Linked DNA regions of Homo sapiens. The protein of the gene in region 1 interacts with the protein of each later gene in a biochemical or structural test. Each region holds a gene or a part of one and is shown on either strand. Other genes may lie near its edges.

Region 1 (4,458 bases):
TGCATCGGCCTTCAGAACGAGGAGTGCAACAGATTACTACAGCAAAATCAAAATCTTCACCTCACGAAAGCAATAACTAACTACAACAATTAATAGACAATATGCCATTTGCAATAGCAACAAAATTCATGAATTGCCTGAAAAGAAGTCTAATAAAAATGTATAAGGTCTTTATAGAGACAACTGTCGAAGTATACTGACATATTCAGGTAAAAAAAAGCTTGAAATACATAGAGGAGTATAACATATTCATTCATGGGGAGCACAACACTGTAAAAATGTAAACTCAGCTTAAATTATTTACAATTTAGTGCCTTACCTGTAGCCGCCGCCATTACAACAAATTTGGGCTGCTGTGCTCTGCTTCCCAAATCAAACCTGGAAAATTACAGAATGGAAACAGTAAATAAAAAACCAGTATCAGCAACAAAATCTACGCAACAAAACAGGGAAAGCCCAGGGTGAGACTCAAGGCTGTGTTGAGCTGGTACTTGTGTTTGACACTTGCAGTGTTGGTTGGAGGGGGTTAGCAGCAGGGATGTTGGGGAGGTTTGTAGCCGGCCTACACGGTAGATGACAGAATGGGTAGAATAAAAGTTTGAAATTTTCCACTTCACTTCTTTGCACAATCTGAGGCAGCCTCTGAAAACACGATGCCAAGAGCCCTAGGTAATAGCAGGACACCAGGAAAATTTGGTTGGTTAAGGCAGTATGACTCCAGAGTTCTGCTAATAACAACCTGAAACCACCATAGTGGCAGAGGAATTACATTTTTAAAAAAAAAAAATTCTTTCAACAGAACACAAAGACTGAAATAGGAGGTCACTACAACCGCGGGAGCTGCCGCCCCGCCCTGCAGGGAGCACCTGGCCTGGGACCCGCAGGCATTCTCTACAAGGGGTGCAGCTGTGCAAATGCTCACAGGTGACAGAAACAGAGCATCTCCTGCCCATCACTTCATCCAACAGCCAGAGGTGACGAAGACGACCCTCCTGAGTGAGGACTGAGGGTCCACACCGCCCCCCCACCCCACACACCATAGAGGGACCACAGAATCCAGCTCAGCCCCTCTTGTCAGCCCTGGTAAACGCAGGCAGTGATGTCACCCAGACCACACCCCTTCCCCCAATGCCACTTCAGGGGGACTCAGAGTCAGAGACTTGGTCTGAGGGGAGCAGAAGCAATCTGCAGAGGATGGCGGTCCAGGCTCAGCCAGGCATCAACTTCAGGACCCTGAGGGATGACCGAAGGCCCCGCCCACCCACCCCCAACTCCCCCGACCCCACCAGGATCTACAGCCTCAGGACCCCCGTCCCAATCCTTACCCCTTGCCCCATCACCATCTTCATGCTTACCTCCACCCCCATCCGATCCCCATCCAGGCAGAATCCAGTTCCACCCCTGCCCGGAACCCAGGGTAGTACCGTTGCCAGGATGTGACGCCACTGACTTGCGCATTGGAGGTCAGAAGACCGCGAGATTCTCGCCCTGAGCAACGAGCGACGGCCTGACGTCGGCGGAGGGAAGCCGGCCCAGGCTCGGTGAGGAGGCAAGGTAAGACGCTGAGGGAGGACTGAGGCGGGCCTCACCTCAGACAGAGGGCCTCAAATAATCCAGTGCTGCCTCTGCTGCCGGGCCTGGGCCACCCCGCAGGGGAAGACTTCCAGGCTGGGTCGCCACTACCTCACCCCGCCGACCCCCGCCGCTTTAGCCACGGGGAACTCTGGGGACAGAGCTTAATGTGGCCAGGGCAGGGCTGGTTAGAAGAGGTCAGGGCCCACGCTGTGGCAGGAATCAAGGTCAGGACCCCGAGAGGGAACTGAGGGCAGCCTAACCACCACCCTCACCACCATTCCCGTCCCCCAACACCAACCCCACCCCCATCCCCCATTCCCCATTCCCATCCCCACCCCCACCCCTATCCTGGCAGAATCCGGGCTTTGCCCCTGGTATCAAGTCACGGAAGCTCCGGGAATGGCGGCCAGGCACGTGAGTCCTGAGGTTCACATCTACGGCTAAGGGAGGGAAGGGGTTCGGTATCGCGAGTATGGCCGTTGGGAGGCAGCGAAAGGGCCCAGGCCCTCCTGGAAGACAGTGGAGTCCTGAGGGGACCCAGCATGCCAGGACAGGGGGCCCACTGTACCCCTGTCTCAAACCGAGGCACCTTTTCATTCGGCTACGGGAATCCTAGGGATGCAGACCCACTTCAGCAGGGGGTTGGGGCCCAGCCCTGCGAGGAGTCATGGGGAGGAAGAAGAGGGAGGACTGAGGGGACCTTGGAGTCCAGATCAGTGGCAACCTTGGGCTGGGGGATGCTGGGCACAGTGGCCAAATGTGCTCTGTGCTCATTGCGCCTTCAGGGTGACCAGAGAGTTGAGGGCTGTGGTCTGAAGAGTGGGACTTCAGGTCAGCAGAGGGAGGAATCCCAGGATCTGCAGGGCCCAAGGTGTACCCCCAAGGGGCCCCTATGTGGTGGACAGATGCAGTGGTCCTAGGATCTGCCAAGCATCCAGGTGAAGAGACTGAGGGAGGATTGAGGGTACCCCTGGGACAGAATGCGGACTGGGGGCCCCATAAAAATCTGCCCTGCTCCTGCTGTTACCTCAGAGAGCCTGGGCAGGGCTGTCAGCTGAGGTCCCTCCATTATCCTAGGATCACTGATGTCAGGGAAGGGGAAGCCTTGGTCTGAGGGGGCTGCACTCAGGGCAGTAGAGGGAGGCTCTCAGACCCTACTAGGAGTGGAGGTGAGGACCAAGCAGTCTCCTCACCCAGGGTACATGGACTTCAATAAATTTGGACATCTCTCGTTGTCCTTTCCGGGAGGACCTGGGAATGTATGGCCAGATGTGGGTCCCCTCATGTTTTTCTGTACCATATCAGGTATGTGAGTTCTTGACATGAGAGATTCTCAGGCCAGCAGAAGGGAGGGATTAGGCCCTATAAGGAGAAAGGTGAGGGCCCTGAGTGAGCACAGAGGGGATCCTCCACCCCAGTAGAGTGGGGACCTCACAGAGTCTGGCCAACCCTCCTGACAGTTCTGGGAATCCGTGGCTGCGTTTGCTGTCTGCACATTGGGGGCCCGTGGATTCCTCTCCCAGGAATCAGGAGCTCCAGGAACAAGGCAGTGAGGACTTGGTCTGAGGCAGTGTCCTCAGGTCACAGAGTAGAGGGGGCTCAGATAGTGCCAACGGTGAAGGTTTGCCTTGGATTCAAACCAAGGGCCCCACCTGCCCCAGAACACATGGACTCCAGAGCGCCTGGCCTCACCCTCAATACTTTCAGTCCTGCAGCCTCAGCATGCGCTGGCCGGATGTACCCTGAGGTGCCCTCTCACTTCCTCCTTCAGGTTCTGAGGGGACAGGCTGACCTGGAGGACCAGAGGCCCCCGGAGGAGCACTGAAGGAGAAGATCTGTAAGTAAGCCTTTGTTAGAGCCTCCAAGGTTCCATTCAGTACTCAGCTGAGGTCTCTCACATGCTCCCTCTCTCCCCAGGCCAGTGGGTCTCCATTGCCCAGCTCCTGCCCACACTCCCGCCTGTTGCCCTGACCAGAGTCATCATGCCTCTTGAGCAGAGGAGTCAGCACTGCAAGCCTGAAGAAGGCCTTGAGGCCCGAGGAGAGGCCCTGGGCCTGGTGGGTGCGCAGGCTCCTGCTACTGAGGAGCAGGAGGCTGCCTCCTCCTCTTCTACTCTAGTTGAAGTCACCCTGGGGGAGGTGCCTGCTGCCGAGTCACCAGATCCTCCCCAGAGTCCTCAGGGAGCCTCCAGCCTCCCCACTACCATGAACTACCCTCTCTGGAGCCAATCCTATGAGGACTCCAGCAACCAAGAAGAGGAGGGGCCAAGCACCTTCCCTGACCTGGAGTCCGAGTTCCAAGCAGCACTCAGTAGGAAGGTGGCCGAGTTGGTTCATTTTCTGCTCCTCAAGTATCGAGCCAGGGAGCCGGTCACAAAGGCAGAAATGCTGGGGAGTGTCGTCGGAAATTGGCAGTATTTCTTTCCTGTGATCTTCAGCAAAGCTTCCAGTTCCTTGCAGCTGGTCTTTGGCATCGAGCTGATGGAAGTGGACCCCATCGGCCACTTGTACATCTTTGCCACCTGCCTGGGCCTCTCCTACGATGGCCTGCTGGGTGACAATCAGATCATGCCCAAGGCAGGCCTCCTGATAATCGTCCTGGCCATAATCGCAAGAGAGGGCGACTGTGCCCCTGAGGAGAAAATCTGGGAGGAGCTGAGTGTGTTAGAGGTGTTTGAGGGGAGGGAAGACAGTATCTTGGGGGATCCCAAGAAGCTGCTCACCCAACATTTCGTGCAGGAAAACTACCTGGAGTACCGGCAGGTCCCCGGCAGTGATCCTGCATGTTATGAATTCCTGTGGGGTCCAAGGGCCCTCGTTGAAACCAGCTATGTGAAAGTCCTGCACCATATGGTAAAGATCAGTGGAGGACCTCACATTTCCT
Region 2 (4,578 bases), on another chromosome or scaffold:
GAGGGGAGCCCAATCGATAACCTGTCTGCGAGTCATGCTCATCACACTGTAGTTTTCACACACGTCACACGGAGACCCTGTTCGTATGCACATTTGGGTGCTTGAGCAGGGTTGCGCCCAAGATTCTGTGGTTCTACGGAGCCCTGAGTGGTGCCCTGGGCAGCTTTCCTCTGGGGTTGGTCAACTTTGATCACTGCACCTAACGAGAAAGGGACCATGAAATCTAATCAGCAAATACAGACAAGCAAGGGGCCATTTCCCACAATCATTTCCACGGAAACACCACGTCGGATACGTAAGTCTGATTGCAGGACAGGGACTGTGCTTCAGAGATGCAGCTTTCGCAGCTGGACGAATGACCCGGAATCTCCCCAAATGCCATTTGTAAGCACACCAAATGAGGTTTATTTCAGGGCTTTCTGAATTTATTTCAGTTGAATACACACACTCCTGTGTTTGATTTCCTTTATTATCAATACGACTTATTTCCAAATGACTGACATGCCAGTGGGAAAATTTTCCATTTCGACTCATTGGAATTGGACATCGTGAAACAGGCAAGTCGGTCTGTCTGTTTCCGGCGTTATGTGGGTTCCAGCAAGAGCACAAGTCCCAGGGCGCCTGAGGTCCATTCAGAAACCAATGTAAAAACGGTGAGCCAGGGTAAGAAAGAAGAGCACCGTTCCTATCTTCTAAATGCATTCCAGTTTCCACTATTCAAGGTGGCGAGAATGATCCATGGATGTGCCACATGAGCAAAATTTCACCTTCTCGTGCCGCCCAACAACTGACGAATGAAACACACCCCAAGAGAAAATAGGAAACCGAGTCCCCTGCAATAACCTCACACTCAAACCTACACGTCAGTAGGTCATATTCAGAAATACACAGTGAATGTCATCTACCATGAACACAAACACACAGACAGTCTCTCCAGAGGTTCGGAAGACTCACGACCCCAAAACTTGATGTTTCCCATGTGTGGGCTCATCCTGAGATGCAGCCATCACTATCCAGTTGTCCCTGTTGTAGAGACAGAAACTTGGACTCCTCATTACTTTATGTAGGATTGACGGTGTTCGTGTTTGTGTGTGTGTGTGTGTTTGCGTGCGCGCTTGTGGGTGTATTTGTGCGTGTGTGTGTGTGCGTTCACCCCTACGTGTGGGTCGGCACTTCCACTGAGATCACTGGCACACAAGCAGAGCCCTCTTGCTGTGTTTGTTCTTCCCTTTGGATCTCCTGGTCCTCCCTTGCAGAGAAGCGAGGGTGCCAGTGTTCACGGACTCCTGATCTGTCCGGGTCGTCGAAGAGAGGTTTAGCAGGGAGCTTTGCTGTTCAGGATGATGGTTTTTCATCCCACACTTGTATTTCGATTGATGAATCACAAGTACGTTGGGAGGCAGGGTACCTTCGACTTTTCTGACGTTGAACTCAGGCTTCGTTTTGTTTTGCTCTTGGGGGAATTTCCAGTGGTCTAAGGTGCTTTCCTGAGTGGCTCTTTCCACCAAGCGCTCGTCCAACTCGGGTGCCTGGAGGCAGGGGTGGTCTCTCTTGAGCTCTCCTTGCGTTGCTCGCCTGTCTGTGTCTTCAGCGCCGAGGGCTCTTGGTTCCCTGCCTCTTGACACACTCTCACTGTGTCTTTCCCATTCACTCTTCTGGATGTAAAAGAGGACATAGGCCTGTTGACTCAGGACAGAAGTGATGCTACAGGCAGTGACCTTGGCATCATCCATTTTATACCACTGGCCTTCTTGAGCTTTGACATAAGAGAAGTAATGTCCGTCGTGACAACTCCACCCAGCGTGGACCAGCACAGCATAGAGGACATAGACAAGAGGTCCTGTGTTCTGCTGAGACATGTATGGCTGCATGTCAAGGCACTCAGGATATTGCACATTCTTGGCAAGTTTGTTGCCTGTGACATCGGAGAATCTCTTCAAGACAAGGATGAGGACCTTGGCAGAAGTGTGTAAAGTTAACGTCTTGGAGGCCGGCGCCCTCTGGAGACAAAGACCGCAATGATAGGCATTCTCTCCATTGAGTTCTTCGGGCTTCACCAACTGTTCCAAAGCTTGCTTGACACTCTGAGCTGCCTGGATATCCAGGGCGATGTCCAGGTAAGGGTCAAAAGTGTCTGAAATCCCGTGGCAGTGGAGACACTTGATTTGAGATCTCCAGCAGCCTCCAAATATTTGGTGGATGAGGGTGGTGTCCTTAGAGTGATGATCTACCTGCTTGTGGCCGGGAAGGCATGCCTTTTTCATGGCATCCACAGTGAACATGAGAAATTCATGGGCATCTTCCTGCTTGCCTCTATGGAAGCCAGCAGCCAATGCCTGTGAGGGCTGGATGACATGACCAGGACTGTGGAGGGCCCATGTGATGTGAGCTTGCATAGTACAGAGCATGCAGCACTTGGGACGCTGACATGTTTGAGAGTGCTCCCGGGACAGCATGTAGTTGGCAAGGGGCGGTGTGTATGTCAGGCACTGCAGGGAAGCGTTCTCGTAGCAGGTATTTCCCATATTCTGGAGCCCAGCCCCCACCGCAGCAGGTCTCCTGCTACTCAGAGGAAGCTTCTTCCTGGGAGCAAGCTGTCTTGCCACAGGAGCCAAATCATCACAGAGGTCGACACGGGCCTCAGATGAGAGTGGTGACTTCTCAGGGAGAGAAGTCCGCTGGATTTCAGCAAAAGCTGCATCTGGCCGAGAAGATGTGAGTTTTGAAAAGTGGTTGAACTGCCACTCACCTCCCAAGTAGAGTGAGTCGTCCTCCATGTCGCCCGCAACAAGGATCACAAGGTTTTTCTGCTGGGACTGCAGGTTGCAGCAAGACGCTATCTCTTCCAAGAGAGTCTTCAAATGACGAGCTCTCTGGCCGCATCAGCCCTTATATAACTCACCCCCACCAACCGCGAACACCCCACCCACCCATCAGGTGTGCGATAAACCAATCAAATATCAGCACTCAATTAAGGAATGAGTCACAGGGTGTGTCCCCTTGCATCGCTGGGAATTCAACAGACACAGCCCACATCATGACTTCTAGAACACCTGAATCAAATTACTCCTCAGGGTGATAGGCACATATAATATGAGTGTAACCGGGTTGGGACAGTGGCCACACAGTTGCCTTATTTTAGGTAAAAGAATGTCAGGGAAGAAATCTTTACCTATGAAACCGTGTGTGTATCTCTCTGTGTGTGTGTGTGTGTGTGTGTGTTTGTGTGTGTGTGTGTGTGCTTGTGCTGGGATGAACTTCCAAGTATGTACTTTTGGCAGCTACCGTCATCCTCTCATCGACGGAAGGACAAGAAGTCTGAAGTGCGCTTTCTGACCTGAGAATAGTCAATGAAGTATAGTATTTAGCACAGCGTATTTTCTTCCTTAATAATAAAGGAGATATCCGTGGCATCAAACAGACCTTCCAGGGATAACCTTTCCACGTTCAGCCTATTGACTCTCTATCCGAGTGAAATTACTGGCCAGTGGAGAACAAGACAAGTCTTTGCATGAAATGCTCTTGTGGAAGCTAGGCTGCCAAATAATAAAGCATCAAATGGTAGAAACATGCACTGAAGTTTGAAGAGTTACTCAGTGCACAAAGTAGGCTGTGAAAGACTTTGGGGAAATCATGCAATCACCGAGAGACTAATTGATGACATTCCCCAAATTTATGTGTGCCAGAAAAGAGAGATGGTCCTGACATTGTATAGTGAGTGGTTTCGGACGTGCGGCGGCAGTTTAAGAAAACTTGAAACAAAAAACTTGAGAAATCCAAAGGTATCCCAACTATAAGCTTTTGTTTATTAAAGAACTGATGAAAATAAAAACAACGTATCTCACAGCATGGGTGATACTATTTCCATACTTACGTGATAATGGATCAACATTTCATAGAGATGAAATAAAAAGTTCTAATTTTGACAAAAGCAAACAAGGAAAATTATACCGTAGAAAAGCCCGGGTGACGGGAGTGAGGCCCTGTCTGAAGAAGAAAACATCGGAGACGTTTAAAAGCAGTGAGTGAAACAGAGGGTAGCATAACCTTTTTAATACTGGCTCTTGTTTCACTGGGAAATGGCAAAAATAAACCGTGTATCTCCTGGATTCTCGCATCGGTTGTTCATGCTCTGAGATGTTCCCTCCATTTCCAGTTATGCATTGTATGGTGGAATTGCAGTTAGCACCTTTGATGCAAAAATTGTAATGCTGACGAAAGTGGACATGTTCCCTGAACTAAGAGGGACAGCATTTGGGTGTGTCTTCAGGCTCTCTGGCTTACCAGGAATGAAGATCCTGGCTCTAGGGATTTTCCCAAAATGTCTTAGACAGTAAGGAACAGGGCAGAATTGAGGCCCGGCGCCAAGGCCTCTGGGTGTAAAGAAACAGCCCTGGCTTCATGGCCCATGAAATTAGGATGATTTTAAGGATGGTGATGAAATGAGTGGGCTGTGACCTTTGGCCCTGTTTCTTTCCTTTGTCTTTTCATGGGCCAGGTGTGCTTCATCAGAAGGCTTCCTATGCCCGATGTAAAGTGTCCTGGGGGAAGAAAGGAGCACTGCTTAGAAAGATGCTC

Evidence for each region.
Region 2: the proteins of MAGEA3 (region 1) and USP17L2 form a complex in vitro, tested with the Homo sapiens proteins (one study listed by BioGRID).

What each region holds. Positions count from the first base shown.
Region 1 is NC_000023.11:152,697,276-152,701,733, forward strand, and holds the start of MAGEA3 (melanoma-associated antigen 3), read left to right. Parts: upstream 1-1,518; 5' UTR 1,519-1,554; exon of another isoform or gene 1,555-1,799; intron 1,800-1,930; exon of another isoform or gene 1,931-1,989; intron 1,990-2,030; exon of another isoform or gene 2,031-2,513; intron 2,514-3,282; exon of another isoform or gene 3,283-3,346; 5' UTR 3,347-3,412; intron 3,413-3,492; 5' UTR 3,493-3,557; coding exon 3,558-4,458. UniProt on the Homo sapiens protein: Activator of ubiquitin ligase activity of RING-type zinc finger-containing E3 ubiquitin-protein ligases that acts as a repressor of autophagy. May enhance ubiquitin ligase activity of TRIM28 and stimulate p53/TP53 ubiquitination by TRIM28.
Region 2 is NC_000008.11:12,135,984-12,140,561, forward strand, and holds USP17L2 (ubiquitin carboxyl-terminal hydrolase 17), read right to left. Parts: upstream 2,867-4,578; 5' UTR 2,778-2,866; coding exon 1,185-2,777; 3' UTR 452-1,184; downstream 1-451. UniProt on the Homo sapiens protein: Deubiquitinating enzyme that removes conjugated ubiquitin from specific proteins to regulate different cellular processes.